Linked DNA regions of Homo sapiens: all the other regions are linked to region 1. Evidence: fine-mapped expression QTL. A gene starts in region 1. Each other region holds a variant in brackets. All regions are shown on one strand. Distances are from middle to middle.

Region 1 (5,031 bases):
TTTTGAGATGGAGTTTTGCTCTTGTTGCCCAGGCTAGAGTGCACTGGCGCGATCTTGGCTAACCGCAACCTCCGCCTCCCGGGTTCAAGCGATTCTCCTGCCTCAGCCTCCCGAGTAGCTGGGATTGCAGGCATGCGCTACTACGCCCGGCTAATTTTGTATTTTTAGTATAGACGGGGTTTCTCCATGTTGGTCAGGCTGGTCTTAAACTCCCAACCTCAGGTGATCTGCCTGCCTCGGCCTCCCAAAGTGCTAGGATAACAGGCATGAGCTACACGTGCGGTCCCTTTTCTTTCTTTCTTTTTTTTTTTTTGAGATGGAGTTTTTGCTCTGTTGCCCAGGTGGGGGTGCAATGGCGCCATCTCGGCTCACTGCAACCTCTGCCTTCTGGGTTCAAGCGATTGTCCTGCCTCAGCCTCCCGAGTAGCTGGAACTACAGGCGCCTGCCACCATGCCCAATTTTTGTATTTTTAGTAGAGACAAGATTTCACCATGTTGGCCAGGCTGGTCTCCAGCTCTTGACCTCAGGTGATCTACCGCCTCAGCCTCCCAAAGTGCTGGGGTTGTGTGAGCCACCGCCCCCAGCCTACATAACTTTTCTATGCCTCCAAACAAAATGAAAATTCACACTTGCAAACTTACCCAGAAGCCAGCTATCTTTGTGCATACCCGCTTCAAACTGACTACTGAGGGAAGACTGCTGCAGCACAGCACAGTCCTGTAGGCTGCCGGGCCAGTTTGTCTCCACGGTCATTAGTGTCCCTCTAATGTCACACACCATCAGGCAGTTTAAAGAATGCAGGCCTTTTCGGTTCACATAGGAGAGGTCTTCAGCATTTGGTGCCTTGATGGCCACATGGATACAGTCAACCACCCCCATCACCCCTGGCATCCCTGCCAACCCATAGAATTCATCCTTCAGAGCCTGAATGGAGGCTTCATCAGCTGGAAAGCGAATGAACTGTGAGGCCCTTTCCACAAGTGCTTCAGTGACATTGGCAACACAACGACTCATAGACGCCTGACTGATTCCAATGGCATCTCCCATCCGAGTCTGGAAGGAACCTGAGGTATAAAAACCCAATGCTGCAAGGACCTGTGTCTCTGGGCTAATAGCCCTGGATCGCTGAGTAGGCCTAGAAAGATTCGCCCCCAAGAGCTCCACCAAGTAATAAATGAACTGCCGTGGAAACCCATACATGGACATCAAGTATTCATCAGTCACATCATCCAGCTTAAAACGGTCCAATGTCCGGTGACCACGGCCATATAGCAAGAGGTCACAGTCAAGCACTGTTATTGGTATAGCCATGGTAAATGTGAATGTTGGCTCTCCTCTTTGCTTTTTCTGAACTGTTCCCAATGAAGATGTTGGTGCAAGAACGTATTTTTAAGAAAGTATCAGAATCCAACAGCTAACCACAGTTAAATGGCTCTGCCATTTATAATCTTCTCTCTGTAAATGTTAAAAGAAAAAACATTAGGAACCTACCAAAGACTTTAAAGTGACTCAAAGGCTGGAGCAGCTCCTTTTCTACAAATTTCCATTTTGTTGAGGCAAAACGTACTGTACTTACAACTCCGGATTTTTCTCCACTAACTCATGGCTGCACGACAGGCTTGCTCTGATTCAAGGATAATGGGAATTCAATCTTTGTGGCTCATTTAATGCTTGGCATTTCAATTGAGAACACCAAAAGAATAATGGAGGTGATGACATAATTATTCACAAGGTAAAAGAGGTCGGCTTCTAACTATATAGGCCAAGAAGCAGCTGACATATGTCATAACCACCTTGGGTAAGAATTGGTCACGGGTTTCATTATCCAAAGACTTCTGGTTTCACCTGACAAATACAGGACAGATGCTGGGGTGTTCAAACCAGTCTAACAAGAAAAGAAGGGGCAAAAAAAAAAAAAAAAAAAAAAAAAAAAAAACAACCAAAGTCCACAACCCAGCCTTATGGACGTACACTGTGTGCTGTAACAAAAGGCTTTTCCCTCACTCCAAGAACTCCAAATCGTGAACCTGAGGGCCAGGAAGTACGGAAGACCAGACACATTGGAAGTCGGGAGCGAAAAAGAGGCTGGCCGAACCAGGTTTGGGAAGCGACTCTGCCACTTTTAAAGGGCACCCTAAAAACGGATGTCAAAGTCTGATTGCGCCGGCCACTCAGTTAGCCCAGGCCCGTCACCCACCTCTCCGCGGCTGCCAGGTTACCAGCCACACTTCCCACCCACCCAGCCGGGTTGGGCCCTCCTCCGGAACCGGCGACTGCACAGAGGCCGCCACGGCGCGCAACAGCGGCACCGCCCCTTCCGCGTCAGCGCCCGCCCCGCGCCGCGCCCTCACTGCCGCTGCCGCGGCTACCTGCGGTTCATCTCCGCACATTCCACACGCGGCCCAAACGGTCTCTCTCTCTCTCTCTCAAACACCGCCTTTCCGTCTTTGTTTTATCTTGAGTAGCTTAGAAAGATTGGAGAAGAAAGCTTACGTGGAATGAAAATCAACTTTTATGGATATTTTGAGGACTAAAAGAATAAATAGGGCGTCCGTACTGTAGCGAAAGTGCGACTAAGGTTAGGCATCTGGATTTCCCCCGTAGCCCTCTTTCACCCCCCCCCCCCGGCCATTACCGAAGCGGATGAAAACAAACACTAACGATGGCGGCGCCGGGAAGCGACCGGCTGCTGGGCTTAAGGCGGGAGTGACCGCTTAACCAGTGAGGGAAGCACTGAAGAGCGCCAGTCGACGTGGGTGCGACAACTCGCGGAGTCTTAGGAGCAAAACGTCTGGGGCCTGCGAGCCAGGACCCTTCTGAAGCCTTAGGTGTCTATCGGCGACGTGTACGGTCACTGCAGCTCCGGAGCGCGGAACCCTCAGCCAGGAGGCGCGGCTGGTCGGTCCCAGGTCCCGGCCTCCGTAATGAGAGCCCGGAACCACTCTTTGTGCCGCAGCTTCGCAGGTACTAACTTTTGCGGGGGATACCCCAAGATCTCTCAGCGCCCCCGGGTGGGAGGCTGTGGATCTGCGGCCCCTTGGCTGCTGCTTCGTGGAAGTAGAAGGGATTAGCCACGGTTCAATCCCCTGGGCCCCTGAGTTTTCTGTGGGAAGTTGAGTTGGTCTAGGCCCCGTTGGCCCCTGCTTGTTTGGCAGAGAATCCCCTCCACCCCAGAGCTTTCCTCTCCACTTTTTCAGCTCCTTGGGTTAGGTCGTCAGGCGTTTTGGAGGTAATTTGGGGGGCCATAACTCCGGGGTTGGGTGCCAATATGAGTGAGGTAGGTTTTCATTCAATCAAGATTTGCTGAGTGCCAAATATGTACTCCGCGTGTAGGTGAGGGTGACTGTTGACTAGTGAAAAAAGGGACCCATGGTTCACGACTGTCTTCTTACTGGCAGTGGAACGACCTGTGGAAACCTGTGATCCATTCTCATTAAATAAATCTCTGGGTAAGTGGCTAAGCACCTTCTTGAGCTCATCACTAATTCTTCCCAGTTTTCACTTTTCCAGTGAGTTCCCAGTTAGCCTGGTCAATTCAGCGTAGCATTTCACTTTTGGTATTTCTTCGTTCTCTGGCCACCCCGCAGCCAAAAAGAAAAAAGAGATTTTAAAAAATTACCTATTTTCTCATTACACTTAGTTTAAAACTCATCTCCTAAGGTGATAGAATTTATTGGACACCTTTAGTGGGAGATGTATTATAATAAGAAACAACAAGCTCTTCCTTTACACTAAATTAGCTTCCAGATTTTGTGTGTTGTTTTATGACTGTTAGTCCTTTTCATGTGTGCATGTAGTGGCTCCAGCTCAATTATGAGGTTTTTTTTTTGTTGTTTTCAACTCTCCATTTATCAGCTCAGGAGAAGTCTTTTAGTTTTTTAGATTTTAAAATTTTTATTATTATTATTAGAGATAAGGTATTGCTGTGTTACCCAAGCTGGAGTACAGTGGCGCCTTCATAGCTAACTTTAATCTCAAACTCCTGGGCTCAGGGAATCCTCCCACCTCAGCCTTCTAAAGTGTTGGAGTTACATGCATAAGCCACAGAGTCCGGCCCAGGAGCTTAATCTCGAAGGAAGTTTACTTGAACTTTAGGTGTGGAATATTCGAAAGTAACTTCCAACATGGGGTGTGGAGCTAAGTAAGATGAATTTACATAAACCGTCATTTTTCCTGCATGTGCTTAGTGGAGGAGAGTGCATAGAGTTGCTGGTCATTGCTTCCTATCAAATTGTGGAAACCAATAAAAACTGAAAATATTCTGCGAGAGAATAGAGGTACTGTAGCCAGGAGGAATGCAAAGGAGGCTGCCCAGAGGGAATCAAACCTTTCTAAAGTTTGGGTTTTAAATATTTAAAAGGATTTTAAGTCCCTAAAGGGATTTAAAGGTTATTTTAAATAATTAGCTGATTTTTTTTTAATGTCCTTGGAAGGTAGATTTCTTGCTTTTTTTTTTTTTTTTTTTTTTTTTTTTTGAGACGGAGTTTCACTCTGGTTGCCCAGGCTAGAGTGCGGTGGCGGGAACTCGGCCCACTGCAACCTCTGCCTCCCGGGTTCAAGCGATTCTCCTGCCTCAGCCTCCTGAGTAGCTGGGATTACAGACATGTGCCAGCACGCCCAGCTAATTTTGTATTTTTAGTAAAGATGGGGTTTCTCCATGTTAGTTAGGCTGTTTGTTCTTGAACTCCCGACCTCAGGTTATCCACCCGCCTTGGCCTCCCAAAGTGCTGGGATTACAGACATGAGCCACCACTCCTGGCCGATTTCTTGCTTTTAACTGAAGAGTAAATGTGGGCCAGTTTATTAAAAATCCTCTGAAGGGGCCGGGCAGGGTGGCTTACACCTGTAATCCCAGCACTTTGGGGGGCCGAGGCAGGCGAATCATGAGGTCAGGAGTTCAAGACCAGCCTGGCCAACAAGGTGAAACCCCGTCTCTACTAAAAATACAAAAAGTTAGCTGGACGTAGTGTTGGGCGCCTGTAATCCCACCTACTCGGGTGGCTGAGGCAGGAGAATCGCTTGAACCCAGG
Region 2 (5,031 bases), 120 kb before region 1:
AATAAAATAAAATAAAAAATAGAAAATAAAGCTAGAAAAGAAGCATCATGGGTCAAATCTAATTATTCCACACCCATGAGAGAGAGCTGGCCTTCCCAGAATCACATTACAGAGCTGACAATTTGCTCCTGCAAGATCCAAAGATTCACCTCCTTCTGGACAACAAACACGAATCTATCTCTCGTTAGAAGGGCTGAAGAGCAGGGAAGGAGAAGCCAGTGCACTGGACAGTACTGAGCAGTTGCCAGTGCCCAAAGGTAACACAGAGCTTGGTGAAAGAACACAAGAAGACAACAGAGAAAAAGGGGCAAACCCCAGGGCTGGGGAAAATGTGGGCCCGTACAACGTAGGTCACAAGCATCTTTTTGTTGCTATTAAAACCTAAATATAATTTCTTTCTGATTCAGTTTATCCCTTCATTTAAAAAAAAAAAAAAAAGGGAAGGGGGCTGGGTGTGGTGCCTCATGCCTGTAATCCCGGCACTTTGGGAGGCTGAGGCGGGCAGATCACTTGAAGTTAGAAGTTCGAGACCAGCCTGGTCAACATGGTGAAACCTCATCTCTACTAAAAATACAAAAATTAGCCAGACGTGATGGCGAGCGCCTGTAATCTCAGCTACTTGGGAGGTTAAGACACAAGAATCGCTTGAACCAGGAGGCGGAGGTTGCAGTGAGCCAAGAGTGCACCACTGCATTCCAGCCTGGGTGACAGGGCAAGACTCTGTCTCAAAAATAAATAAATAAATAAAATAAAATAAAATAAAAAAATAAAGGGAAGGGGTTAAGATGATAAATTTTATGTTATGTGTATTTTACCAACATTTTTAAAAACTGATGGAAAAGAGAGGGTGCAAAATATGGTCAGAGATAATGGCTTTATAGTGTTTAGAGATTAGTGGGGGATATATAAAGGAAAACAAGAATGAGATCAGCTGGCTCAAATACACGCAGTCTCAGACTGAAGGTTACACGAGGCACTATAAAAGAGGCAACATGTTAAGTAAGGGGAGGTGCTCATGCTGGTCCTCAGTTTATTTAACATCTTGGCTAAGAATGGAGAAATAGGAGCTAAATGTCATCTCAATACAAGGCAGAGCAGATTTCAAATTCCAAGTGTTGAGAACTCTGAAGGAGAAATGACAGGAGAGGACCCAGCACGACCAGGAAAATGTGAAACATAATAAACACAATATGAGATGCTGCCTATGGGAGAAAAGAACCCACAGACCTCTAGGATAAAATAGCCTATAACCAAACCAGCTCAAACATTTACTGAGCAGGTAAAACCTTGAATACCGGAATGGGTAAGGTGGCAAAGGTCAAAATATACTACAAAAGGACGAGTTCGACAGGAAGAGGGGAAAAGGCCATCAGTTTTAGTACTGGTACACAGAAATCCTGGACCAAAGGCACAGTTCCAAATAACTAAAGGCAGAAACAGTAACTGATGACTCTCTAGATTCTATAGTTTAGAAAGAGGGGAAGATTCAGAGATAATGGGTTGGGGTGGGAAAAGAAATTTCAATGCATGGGATATTTAGTGGAAGAACTGAAGGGAGAGGGATAAGTTCCAATAGAAGAGCACAGGAATTAAAAGTACTTAAAATAATGATATACTTAGAAAACTACACAGAAATCTGCCACTCACTTCCGTGCTGATACAAGGTCGACATCAAGCCAAGGCTCTATGAGATAGAAGGAGACAAATTTGGTCAGGCAGGCAGAGGCTGAATATGAGTGAATTGGAAGATATTTGCCAGATGAAAAGTGAGAGAAAGGCAGACCCAGACAGTTTAGGAACAGTGAAGGGTGCTAAATACCGGGCTCTAACAACATAGCCAACACCCTTTCCAAGGGTAATGACTTAAAAGTGTGAAGAACAGAGTACACAAATATGTTGGTATTGCTCCTCCAACATAGGAGGAATACTTTTCAGGGAAACACCAGAGAAACCCTCATCAATTCCAACAGCCTGAAGCTGACTTTGAGCCAGCAGGATAGAAGCTGGCTGGGTTATTAATGGCTTTCCCAGTTGCTGAACTCTGTGCATCTCTGATTAACTCTCAGAGGGGTATTTGGGAAGGAGTAGGGGGAAAAATACTTTCTTATCAAAGATTTTACCAGAAAAAAAACACCCTTCAAACAATCAAGTATCCAAAATAAGTGCTGAATACAAGAAGATGTATTTCCAGAACAAGGGAGAAACACAGCAGCAGCTCTTTTGCTAAATGTCTAGGATTAATTGCCTCGGAGAGAGGCTGTAATTTGAAGGAATGAAAAATGCACCTACAGACTGCTGTCTGAGTCCTGACCAGACAGTCAGGTTGTCATTGCTCCTCAGTGACAAATGGCTCTGACTTGGGCCTTTA[T/C]AAATGAAGCTCTTGCAGCAAAAAGCTCAAAAGGCCACTGTCCTCTTGACAGTATACAGTTGACTTTGCTGACAATTAGACTATTAAAAAATTTTTGTTTCCCTATGCTGCTCTGTTTCTACTCAATCTCCAGACAACAGAAGGCCTAGCTGGTATTCCTGTCCCTGGAGAGCACAGTGATCTTGGTCAACTCATTTCCTTACTGGAGTGCTGCTGGTTAGAAACTGAGGCCCCAGTCTCTACTTTCAATGACTGTGCACATATGCAAGGGCTTTGATTTCTGGAAGGAAGGCACAGCCCCAGCTGATATCATTCATAGGGAATAGCTAATAGCATAGGTCTCCTGGAACTACAGAGCCTTCATTTTTCTCCAAGGAATGGTAATACAAGAGATAATTACCATTTACAAATTCCTCTCCTCCCTTATGTTACCTTTTAATTTCATCTGCCTACATTATGCAAATCCACATTCCTATTGTGCATTTTATGTTAAAAAATAAGCATATAAATCTAAGGGTTATGTCTTCCTCCCCCAAACCCCCACTGCGTAATTCTTTCCTGCTGTATTTTCCCATTCTAAGCCCAAGCACAATCCAGACGTGTTCCATTTTCTTTCTCTTCTTCTGCATTCCTCTTAACAAATATTCATATGTATTTTACTTGCCCAGTAATTCTAATTCTAGAATCCTAAAGTATTAATTCTAAAGTTGCTAAGCAATATTACACGTTTTTAAGCAATAAATCAAAGTCCTCAGTAAGAGCTAGAATTCAGGTAAAGTATGTATTTTACAAATACATTGAGGCTCGACAGGTACCATATAGCCTATTCTTAATCCTCAGGAAGGCCCCTTACTTTTCTGAGACTTTTCATTATTGTACCTCTGCCTACTACAGGGGAAATTTTTCTTTTTTTTCTTTTTTTTGAGATGGAGTCTCACTTTGTCACCCAGGCTGGAGTGTAGTGGTGCAATCTCAGTTCACTGCAACCTCCGCCTCCTGTGTTCAAGCAATTCTCTGCCTCAGCCTCCTGAGTAGCTGGGTTTACAGGCGCCCGCCACCACGCCCAGCTAATTTTTATATTTTTAGACAGATGGGGTTTCACCATCTTGGCCAGGCTAGTCTTGAACTCCTGACCTTGTGATCCATCTGCCTCGGCCTCCAAAGTACTGGGATTACAGGCATGAGCCACCGCCCCCGGCTGACAGGGGAAATTTTTCTAAGATAGTTAACTCCAACAAAGATCCAAGAAGCTTAAAGCTACAAGAATCTGAGGTTATCTAATCTCATTTTACACATCAGACACTGAGGCCTAGGATGGGAAAGGGGCCGGCTCAAGATCAGATAATAAATCACAGCCTCAGCCAAGACTAGAACCCAGGACTATTCCGTAGACAATAGCTGTCAGGCTGTGGGGCCAGCAGGCATTGACAAGTGATCTCAATGCCAGTCACTGCTGTTCTAAGAAGCAGTGATTGCTAATTTATAAATTTAGTTCAAAACTGGATCCAGTAAGAGTAAAAAAGGACTTAGCATTTTTTTTTTAGACAAGAAAAGTAAGATGGCTGTGCTTTCAGGAAGCTCGTTCCCCTAAAACATTCACAAACAGGCTCCACACTTAGAAAACATCAAGCCCTCAGACAATCAATACTTACAATGCAACCCTCAGATATCCTCACCTGTACTATGCCCACTGCTTTCTAACTGGTACTTCTGCATCAGTACACTTGTCACTTTAGGTCACCTTAACCAATGCTATCAGAGTTAGCTGCCTAAAATATATATTGGATGATGGCTGGCCTGAGACAAAGTCCAAACTTCTCAGCCAGGCATTCCAGGCCATCCAGAGTTCGGGGCTTTCTGATATCTCTCTCATATCACAAACACTCCATAGCTCTAGCCACAGATCTATTCAGGGTCCCTGAATAAGCCCTGTAAATCTCCTGTCTCTACGCTTTTGCTTAAGCTACTCCCTTTATCTAGAATCTCCTCGCTATACCCATCACCAATATCAATTCCTCTCTCACAGTTCTATGCAGTCTTCAATACCCAGCTCAAATCCATGAAGCTTTCTCACCTCTCCCCAAATACTCTCTCCCTTTATACAATGCTCTCCTAGTATTTTAGTGGTAACTTATTACAGTCTATCTTTTTAGATACTTATGTAAAACTTGATGCTATTCCATAACTTAAAATGCTTCAATGATTCCCTCTTGCCTATGGGATAAAGTTCATCTCCTTTGCAAGGCACGCAAGACAAAGATCTAGCTCCATTCTAGGGGCTCATCTGCCACACATCTTTAACTTTACAGTCTAGCCACACCTATCAACAAAGCAATTCCCCAAATATTCCATGCTGTTTCATGTTTCTATGACCATGCATTTACAGCTGGTACTCAAATAATGTTGTTTCATTCAATGTTGTTTTGTATAATGTTGATGAGGGAAAAAAATCAATTCCTGGCCATGGCCACTGTCTGAGTTTGCACACTTCCCCATGTCTGTGTGGGTTTTCTCTGGGCATTCCAGTTTCCTCTCACATCCCAAAGATGTGCACATTGGATGAACTGGCATGCCTAGACTACCTTAGTCTGAGTGAGTGTGGGTGTGTGCATGAGTGCACCCTGTGACGGAATGGCATCCTGTCCAGGGCAGGTTCTCCCTGT
Region 3 (4,943 bases), 55 kb after region 1:
TGGAAACGTCTTCCTCTACCACAGTGCATCCTTATTTGATGGTCATTCCTTTGCCAAAGGCCTAGGAGGCCTACCACCTTCTATCTTCCCTGTAATAGGAAAGAGACATAATTAGAAAATTATCTTTTGATCACTCTTGAGATTGGCATTGTGCCCAGCAGTCATTATCTGGAATTTGCTTGAGCTTGGTTCCTTCTTTCTCTGCACATTCTCAGCATTACTTACATGCTCCTGTTGTTCTGTGCCTGACGTCTTCTCCTTGCAGATGCCACTAGGCCAAGTTGCTCTAACAGCCATTGCATTAGCTATTTAGCTTTCCAGGCAGATGCCAGTGGTACTGGGCAGAGGAGATTGTGAGGTCCTGAGTATCTGTGTTCTTGCTCTTTCCTCAGAGAGCTCACTCCGTCATCTAGCAGTTCTCACACTTGACCAGATGTCCTGATACTGATTATAATGACCCCATCTCTGCTTAGGGCATTTCCTCTTCCTGCCTCTGAGGGGCAGAAGAGTGCCCCGCACAAGCCACAAACTGGGTGCCCCATGCCAGGAGATGTCCCTCTTTGAGGTGGAATGATCACCTCCTAAATAGATATTAAGATCCTATGGTAGCTGCCCTGGATTTGCTTTAAGGAGAAAAGCATGCCCAGTAATAACAATACAGTAATAGCCAGGTGCAGTGGCTCACGCCTGTAATCCCAGCACTTTGGGAGGCCAAGGCAGGCAGATCACAAGGTCAGGAGTTCGAGACCAGCCTGGCCAACATGGTGAAACCCCGTCTCTACTAAAAATACAAAAATTAGCCAGGCATGGTGGCGGGCACCTGTAATCCCAGCCACTCGGGAGGCAGAGGCAGGAGAATCACTTGAACTTGGGAGGTGGGGGTTGCAGTGAGCCAAGATTGGATCACTGCACTCCAACCCGGGTGACAGAGTGAGACTCCATCTCAAAAAAAAAAAAAAAAAGTAATAATTACTACTACCAAGACCTTTTGGGCCAGGCACAGTGGCTCACACCTGTAATCTCAGCACTTTGGGAGGCTGAGGAGGCCTTCACTTGAACTCAGGAGTTTAAGACCAGCCTGAGCAACATGGTGAAACCCTGTCTCTACAAAAAGTACAAAAAATTAGCTGGGCGTGGTGGCATCCGTCTGTAGTTCCAGCTGCCTTGGGAGGTGGAGGCAGGAGGATTGCTTGCTTGAGCTGGGGAAGTCAATGCTGGAGTGAGCCATGTTTGCGCCACTGCCTCTAGCCTAGGTGACAGAGTGAGACCCTGTCTCAAAAACAAATAAATAAATAAATAAAAATCAAGGCTTTTTGAGTGCCAGGCATTTTTCTAAGTGTTTTACATGAATCTTCAACAGCCCTAAGAGGTAAGTTTTCTCATCCCAGTTTACAGATGAGAAAACCAACAATGATTAGCTTGCTCATAGTCACACAGACCCAGGCAAAACAAAGCTTTGCTTGATCTTAGAGGATCTGGTTCCTCAATTTAGCCTTTTAACCACTAAACTCCCTTGCCTATCATGACATGCACTTGGAAGAAAGTGTGGCTCCAATTCTCTCAACTGATGCCACAGCCGTAGCCAGTTCTGAGGCCTCCCTCT[C/T]CTTTCAGGAAGCTGCACCCAAACCACCCTCAGCTGTTGGTGTCTCCAGGCCACATTAAAAACTCTGAGGCAAGAGACTCTCCACGCTCCCTTGTGGTCGTGTTTAAACCCCTACTGGCAGGAAATTGTGATGGTGAAACTCTGCAGATGCAGCTTCTGTTCATTTAGTCATCAGTAGAGACGCATTTTTATTAATAGTTGATACTCTAGGACAGTTAAACTTCTCACAGTTCTGTTTTCCTCTGCTTCTGTCTTTACCATTCTCTCTCAATCTCTAACTCACCCCTTCCTCAGCTGGTATAAAGATAACAGATTCTGGCCGGGTGCAGTGGCTCATGCCTGTAATCCCAGCACTTTGGGAGGCCGAGGCGGGTGGATCACAACATCAGGAGTTCAAGACCAGCCTGGGCAACATGGTGAAACCCTGTCTCTACTAAAAATACAAAAAATTAGCTGGGCTTGGTGACGGGCGCCTCAGGAGGCTACTCAAGCTACTCAGGAGGCTGAGGCAGAGAATTGCTTGAACTCGGGAGGCGGAGGTTGCAGTGAGCTGAGATCACACCACAGCACTCCAGCCTGGGTGACAGAGCGAGACTCTGTCTCAAGAAAAAAATTTAAAAATACAGATTCCTAGGCCTTACCACAGACCTGCTACTGTGTCAGAATGTCAGTAGTATAGTGGGGCCACCTGGTTCACATTCCCCCCAGGGGGTCCCGATGCCCAGCAAAGGGTGTGAAGAAATCTTTTGTAAACTGTTTAATTTGTAGAGCTGTACACTTGGTATTTTATTCTAGTGTCAGTCAGATCTGTGCCAGGGATATTTCATGTTTAATTTCTGAATCATCTTGCTCTTGTGGTCCTTTTCTCTTTTGTTAAGTGTGTGGCCCACTTGGACTCCCAAGGCCGTTCCATTAATCCTCCAGCCCCTGCAAAGCCCTGATGCATATACCCCTCCCTACCCTGTGCCTACGCAGCTGCCCTGCGTTCTCCCACTTGCTCGGCCCAGCTAGGGCTGAGCTTCGTCTTGCTTGCTGCCTCCCCTCTTCGGGACTGGGCTGGCTGCCTCCTCAAGGCCCTGCCTGAATAAACGGCTCTTCCCTCTCTTTCCGGTACAGGACTCATTACCAGAGAAGCTGGCTGTGCATGAGAAGAATGTCCGCGAGTTTGATGCCTTTGTGGAAACCCTGCAGTAAAAGTATCCTTGAGTCCCAGCAGCACCCCCTTTTTGTGGCCCCAGGGCATAAGCAGCCTCCCATGCATCAGCTGCTCCCACCCCTCATCCTGCTCTGAGCCAGGTGGAAGGGAGGCTGGCTTCTCCCATGGGGACCCAGAAGTCCCTACTCTTGGACCTCCTGGAGACTCCGTGGCGGCAGTCAAGCCCAGTGCCCAGTTGGAGAAGACTCACGTGCTGGCCTTGGAGATGGGAAGAACCTTCGTACGAAAAAGCCCTCAGCAGGGCCATCTGTGTGCCCTGCCCATCACCAACTGCTTCCCAAGGGTGTCATCCTGTTCCTCCTGCTGCCGGCCTCCTGCCTGGGCCTGCCTTGCAGCTGGCCCCTTCCCTGCCTGCTGTCACCATCCACTGTTTGACATTCCAGCTGGTGGCCAAGAGATTGGTGTGGAGTCGCAGAAAGAGGAAGGAGACAGTGCCAGGAGGAAGAAGGAAGGAGTCCCTTAGCTCTCTTCATTGTCCCCTTTACTTCCTGCTATCTTCTTCTCCTCTTCTTCTCTCTCTTGCCTCTATGCCTGTATTTCTGGCAATATGACAGGCCTGCCTACCCAAGATCAGAACTCCAAAACCACTCCCACCCCTGAAGGTCGGGAGGGTCTGAGCAGCCCTGGTGGCTGCCTGTGCTCAGGTCCTCAGCTCCATGGGAAATAAAAATGGCACCCTGAATCTCTAGGATTTTGTCACTTGGAGTCACAGCAAAGTTCTCTTCCTCTTGTCCCCCCGTTGCTGCTCCTTGGTTATAGAACATGGTAAATATTTATTACTTTCAGAGAAACCAGATATTTTATAGAGGAAATATGTTTGAGGTGAGTTGTTTTTCACTTGGAGAAGGCGGAGGGCTCTTCCTGGGACGGAGACCTCCTCCTCCGGAGGTTATTGAGAATCCGGGCTGCTGCTTTGAGGATCTTCCCACCATACAGACAGCGAGATCCAAGAAGAGGGCTGGCCGGGGGCAAAGTCACCTCCCAGTGTGGCTGCACTGGAACTGACTAAAGGCTTTACCTTGGATAGTTGCGTATTCCTGGTGAGAGCCTTACATCTCCCACAGTTTCTGCAGAGTGACTGACTCCATTCTGGCAGCCCAGGAAGTCCTGGGTGCTAAATGTGATGGCCACATGTAGTGGTTAGGGGATGTTGTGTGTGTCCCCCAACTGCCTGGGTACTTGTTCCTGATCCCTGGGGCTGTCCTGTGGAGCTTTTCCTCCTGCTTGGGCCTAGCTACCATCTCCCTCTAATCCCAGGTTCTCTACACTGCCCTGGGGTTTACCAGCTGGATTGGCTTCTGGTTGAGAAATCAAAGCTGGGCGTATGATTGACTTAACCCTTCAGGTATTGTTACTTGAATAAGTCAAGTGCCTAGCCTCACCCACCTATGATCTGTCCTTTCCCAGCCTCGCTGGTAGTCCTGGTCAAGGAGATCTAGGTCTACTCCATTCCTCCTGGCCCACCTGGGGCATTCACTGGCAGCAGCTGTGCTTCAGTGGAGCAGGTGGTTCTCAGCTGCTTGTTAGTATACTGCATGTGACACTGTTCCCACATACAAGGCTGACTTCTGAGGATTGGAGCAGGCTCTGGCGGGGACCAGAGCTCTGCGTGCTGCTGCTGCCACCAAGAAGTGTTAGCAGAAGCAGTAGCAGCCAACTGGCCCTCCTGACTTTGGCCCAGAGCACATGCGTGGCTTGCTGAACCCAGGCTCAGGTTTATCCCCAAGGCCCCAGCTTTGAGAAGGGGGAAGGCCCCTGGTAAGTTATTGATGCCCCCATATTTCAGCTACTGCTCTCTTTCCAAGGCCTTGCATGGAAAGGCCTAGCCATTGTCTGAGGCAGCAATCTTTGGCATCTACAGGTGGCAGCAGCCTTTCACCAGGGCTCCATCTGTGAAGAGTCTCAGCCATGACTTTGAGCTGAGCTTGGGAGAAGTAAAGCAACTGTTAAGGCCAGCCCTTGCCCCTCAGACCTGCCATGAAAGGAATGAGCCCTAGACTGACTCCTGCAGCACCCCCGGGACAGGCTGGGACCAGCTGTTTGTCTCCAGGTGTCAGAGTCCCTCCTCCTCCTCCAACCTCTCCAACCTACTTTGTTTGGAAATACCGAGCTACACTTCAAAAT
Region 4 (5,031 bases), 140 kb before region 1:
ATAACAGAGAAGAGGAAAAAGTGTCCATGAAGTTGAGAGGGGAAATCAGCCAGTCAGTGTTTCCTTCAGCACTATTACCTCCAAATCCCATGGCCAATTTCTCTGTTAGTTCCATCCAGTGGCAGCTCAAGAAATTCTATAAATGAGTCTCAGGGTTGGCAGGTGAACGAGTAGGGTGTGCACAAGTTAGGTGACTTGTCTTGAAGCTGCCGGCAGAGCAAGCACACTGTTTTTCACTTAGATGGTGTATTTTTAGGGGTGGCTTGTGGTTAGATAATAGTGGTGGGGAGATACGTAAAGAGTCCCAAGCCAACCCGTGGTGCTGGTACTGCTTCTATCCCATAGGACCTTCACATTCTTCCCAGGTAAGACATAGATTAGAATAGCCAGAAACTTATTCACAGCATGTGCTCCTAAACTGTCCCTGTGGCCTCTCCACCTAGAACATGGGAGTGAAGAAACTGGGCATTTTAAACAATTTACTCCAGCTTTGCACTGATATTTTCAGTTTTAATTAGTTTGCAAAATAAGCTATACAACATTTTACCACTTTTCCCCAGTTGCTTCACATCAGCAGAATCCAGAAAAATATTTAGACCAAGAAACACTTTGTGGCTTTTATAAGCTCTCAGTTAGCTCCTGTGTTAGCTCTATTAGTTCTGCCTTAAAGAAAATCAAGTTCAAATTCTGCTTAAGGCTGGGTGTGGTGCCTCACGCCTGTAATTCCAGCACTTTGGGAGGCCAAGGTGGGTGGATCAGCCAGGAGTTCGAAACCAGCCTGGTCAAGATGGTAAAACCTTGTCTCTACTAAAAATACAAAAAAATTAGTTGGGCATGGTGGCGCACGCCTGTAACCCCCCAGCTACTAGGTAGGCTGAGGCATGAGAATCACTTGAACCTGGGAGACAGAGGTTGCAGTGAGCCGAGATTGCGCCACTGCACTCCAGCCTGGGCAAGACTGTCTCAAAAAAAAAAAAAAAAAATCTGCTTAAATACTGAGACCCACAACAGATAAAGGGAGAAAGGTGGAAGGGTGGGAGGGGAAAGGGACCCAGGAGTAAAAGTAAAGGCAGAATAGAAGGACACTAGCTCAATCTCATCACCACAACCTCTAACTCTTATCAGACAAAAAAGGATAAGGCCGAGTTTTCATTAGGGAGAGTCTTTGTCTCTTTAAAGATACTTCTTTTTTTTTTTTTTGAGACAGGATCTTGCTCTGTCACTCAGACTGGAGTGCAGTGATGTGATCTCTGCTCAATGCAGCCTCTGCCTCCCAGGCTCTAATGATCCTCCCACCTCAGCCTCCTGAGTAGCTGGAACTGTGGAACTACATGCACATGCTACCAAGCTCAGCTAATTTCTGGAAAAAAAAAAAAAAAAACTTTTTGTAGAGATGAGCTCTCACTATGTTGCCCAGGCTGGGCTTTCCTGGGTGCAAGCAATCCTCCCACCTTGGCCTACTGTGCTGGGATTACAGGCTTGAGCCACTGTGCCCAGCCTCTTTGAGGACACGTCTTTATTGTACATAGGCTATACCATTTTGAATGCACATGCCTAGGATAATATCCAGGGTTTATCAACAGCAGAGCCCCCAGCCCATCAGCGACTGAGGTGGTTCTAAAAGTACATCAAGGAAGTCCTAAAAGATTGATTGGTGAGGCCAGGCATAGTGGCTCACGCCTGTAATCCCAGCACTTTGGGAGGCTGAGACGGGCAGATCGCTTGAGGTCAGGAGTTCGAGACCAGCCTGGTCAACATGGCGAAACCCCATCTCTACTAAAAATACAAAAATTAGCCAGAGCTAATTTTTGTATTTTAAAAGAACTCTCTACTTTGAAAAGAACCCTGAGACACTATGTGAAGAAGCACAGGTTAGTTTACTGGTGAATGAAAAAAAAAAAGAATGACTGGTGAATATACTGAATTTGTCTCTATGTGACCTGAGGCCCAATCTATGCAATTCACATTTGGTCCCCATAAAATAGTTTTTAACCAATCTCAATAATGCCAAGTAAAAGCTAAGTCCTATGCTTGAGAATAGCTGAATTCTTGCTTCTCCCAACCACTGCTATAAGAAAGCATAATATGCCACAGTAATTGGGCACACAAAAATTCCTTGCCTTAGTTTTTAGGAACTTTTCTTCTGAGTTGCTTCTGTTCAAGGAGCTCTGGATTATAAATGATGCCACGGGTACAGGTTCACTTACAGCAAATTAGTAAGTGCTTGCACAGTTAATTCTGTCAGTCTTACTCCTACACAGAAATACATTTGGCCCCAAGGGGCCCAACCACCCACAGAGCTCTTTTGCACATCTTTTTACCCTCCAGCACAGAAATACAGGGCTATATCCTAGAAAATACCCAGAGAAAGAGAAAAGGTAGTTTCCCTGATATCCTATGTCTAGGAAACCAGGGTCCAGCTTTTTATTTGAATGTTGTTCCTAAATTCATTTCTCTGAATAACCCAAATAATTACCTAAGGCAAGATATTTCTTGTTTTTTTCTTTTTTCTCTTTTTTTTTTTTTTTTTTTTTTGGAGATGGAGTTTCGCTCTTGTTGCCCAGGCTGGAGTGCAATGGCGCAATCTCGGCTCACTGCAACCTCCACCTCCCGGGTTCAAGCGATTCTCCTGCCTCAGCCTCCCGAGTAGCTGGGATTACAGGCATGCACCACCATGCCCGAAGATATTTCTTGAAAGTTCTAAATCTGTACCTTTATATCCTTTGGTATGCTGAAGCTTTCCTCAGTATATGTAAGGACACTTTTAAAAAAAGCAATTTGTGCTGGACGCAGTGGCTCACGCCAGTAATCCTAACACTTTGGGAGGCCAAGGTGGTAGGAT[C/T]GCTTGAGCCCAAGAGTTTAAGACCAGTCTGGGCAACACAGTGAAACCCTGTCTCTACAAAAAATACCAAAATTAGCCAGGCATGGTGGCATGTGCAGTAGTCTCGGTTACCTGGGAGGCTGAGGCCGGGGAATCACTTGAGCCCAGGAGGCAGAGGTTGCAGTGAGCTGTAATCAAACCACTGCATTCCAGCCTGGGCAACAGAGTGAGACCCTATCTCAAAAGAAAGAAAAGAAAAAAAAAGCAATGTGTTCAGAGTGTGCTAGCAGGCTACCTCAGATTTCAAAGCCTACTTAGTTGTGGCAGCATGTTACAGTAATGGCCCCAAATGATTTAGGCCCTTCTGTATCCATGGCCTTAGAGAGTCTTCTTCCTGGTTTGGGGCTTACCCAAACAGCTTGCTTTAGCTGATGGAATGGACAAAAGCAAACATGACATAAGGAGAGATTCAAAAAGTGCTTATGCAGTAGGACTTGACCTCTCCTGCTTCTTTTCAGAACTCTGAGGTCAGGAGTTTGAGACCAGCCTGGCCAACATGGTGAAACCCTGTCTCTACTAAAAATACAAAAATTAGCCAGGTGTAGTGGCAGGCGCCTGTAATCCCAGCTACTAGGGAGGCTGAGGCAGGAGAATCACTTGAACCCAGGAGGCGGAGGTTGCAGTGAGCTGAGACTACACCACGGCACTCCAGCCTGGGCGACAGAGCGAGATTCCGTCACACACACAACCCTGAGACACTATGTGAAGAAGCACAGGTTAGTTTACTGGTGAATAGAAAGGAGACAAGTCATCCCAGCTGAAGCCAAATAGCCTGCCAAATGCCAGATACATGTGTGAAACTATCTGTTATCAGTTTTCTATAACTGCCATAACAACAAGCAGAAACTTAGTGGCTTAAACAAGACAAATTTATTATCTCTCAGTTCTATAGGCCTGAAGTCAAACAAAGGACTCATTGGGCTAGAAGAAAGGTGTTGGCTGGCCTGTGTTCGGGTCTGTCTCCTTGTCCATTTCGGTTGCTGGCAGAATTCAGTTCCTTGCAGATGCAGAACTGAGGTTCCCACTCGCTGCTAGCTGTTAGCAGAGGCCATTCCCATCTTTGATCATTGCAGCACCTTGACTGACCCTTCTGCCTTCCTCTTCCACTTTTAATAGCTCATGTAATCAGATGAGGCCCACCCAGATAAATCAGGATAATCTTCCCACCTCAAGATCTATAATCTTAATCATAACTGCAAAGTCCTTTCTGCCATGTAAAGTAACATATTCACAGGTTCTGGGGATTAAGATGTGGAAGGACCTCTTAGGCAGATCATTATTTTACCTACTAAACCATCTAAGATCATCCACATCCAGCCAAGCTATTAATTGACCACAGAGAAGAGCCAATGATGCAGACCAGGCAAACTGCAATTGGACTCGCAGAATTGTGAGAAACAAGAAATGTCTTATGCCACTAAATTTGGGGGTGGTTTGTTCAGCAGCAAAAGCTAAATGACATAATGGCCAAAGCTATACCACTTCCCAGGGTTGTGCAACCCTCATCCCAATACATGCGTCTTTTCCTTCTTTGCTCTAGATCAACATGTGTACCTTAAAAGCAACTGGCAGTTTTTTGTTCTCTGAGTCATAAAACAAAATAATTCATTTTATTTTTTCTTCTAGTCCAGATCTAGAGATTATTGCTGAAGTTTAACCAAAGTCAGCCTTATTATCTCAAAACAACCAGAGAGAGGCTCTTTGCTCTACAACTTTGGAAGCTACATACATGAAAAAAATATATACATACTGCAAGTCCCAGGGAATGATTTCAAGGAAGGACTACCTTTTGACAGAGCTAAAGCTGCTGATAGAAGAGGAAAATTTCACTGCCATCCAACTATCTCTCCTTTACGTATAGAGACCAATGAGGGGTTTGGGGCACAGCCTCTTAAAGAGGGATCTCTAACCCTTCACTAGCCAAATAAATTTTCTCAACTAGGCTCCCCCTCAAATTTGCTGATACTTAAAGGTCTGGAAAACTTCAGTAGAAGGAAAATGCCAATAGCAACTTAATGTCCTCTTGGCTCTTTTGGCTGACTTCCCTGTGCCTGGGTCTTGACTATTAATTGAATGCTGTTCAGATTCCATCTCAAAAACAAATGAGGATGGAGACCAGAGGCCTGCCGTCCCCAGACTGATAAGAGCAG

Evidence for each region. PIP is the estimated chance that this variant, and not a neighbour inherited with it, causes the effect.
Region 2: its variant is the best candidate, but not a certain one, in a credible set for the expression of ATG13 in whole blood (TOPMed, PIP 0.85).
Region 3: its variant is the best candidate, but not a certain one, in a credible set for the expression of ATG13 in whole blood (TOPMed, PIP 0.63).
Region 4: its variant is the best candidate, but not a certain one, in a credible set for the expression of ATG13 in whole blood (INTERVAL, PIP 0.56).

What each region holds. Positions count from the first base shown.
Region 1 is chr11:46,614,926-46,619,956 of GRCh38, forward strand. ATG13 (autophagy related 13) reads left to right here and starts at 2,628. Exons shown (of 19, transcript NM_001346311.2): 1 at 2,628-2,965. It overlaps HARBI1 (harbinger transposase derived 1), which reads right to left and starts at 2,302. Exons shown (of 3, transcript NM_173811.4): 1 at 2,199-2,302; 2 at 643-1,456. The coding sequence starts at 1,312. RefSeq lists an enhancer at 2,435-2,614 and a silencer at 2,594-2,888.
Region 2 is chr11:46,496,384-46,501,414 of GRCh38, forward strand. All of the region lies in intron 9 of AMBRA1 (autophagy and beclin 1 regulator 1), which reads right to left. Among named protein-coding and RNA genes, the nearest start is that of MIR3160-1, 47 kb to the left of the region's middle. The variant T/C (reference allele first, on the strand shown) is at 2,369.
Region 3 is chr11:46,669,536-46,674,478 of GRCh38, forward strand. ATG13 (autophagy related 13) reads left to right here. Exons shown (of 19, transcript NM_001346311.2): 19 at 2,720-4,943. The coding sequence ends at 2,797. Among named protein-coding and RNA genes, the nearest start is that of ARHGAP1, 29 kb to the right of the region's middle. The variant C/T (reference allele first, on the strand shown) is at 1,604.
Region 4 is chr11:46,476,136-46,481,166 of GRCh38, forward strand. All of the region lies in intron 11 of AMBRA1 (autophagy and beclin 1 regulator 1), which reads right to left. Among named protein-coding and RNA genes, the nearest start is that of MIR3160-1, 27 kb to the left of the region's middle. The variant C/T (reference allele first, on the strand shown) is at 2,843.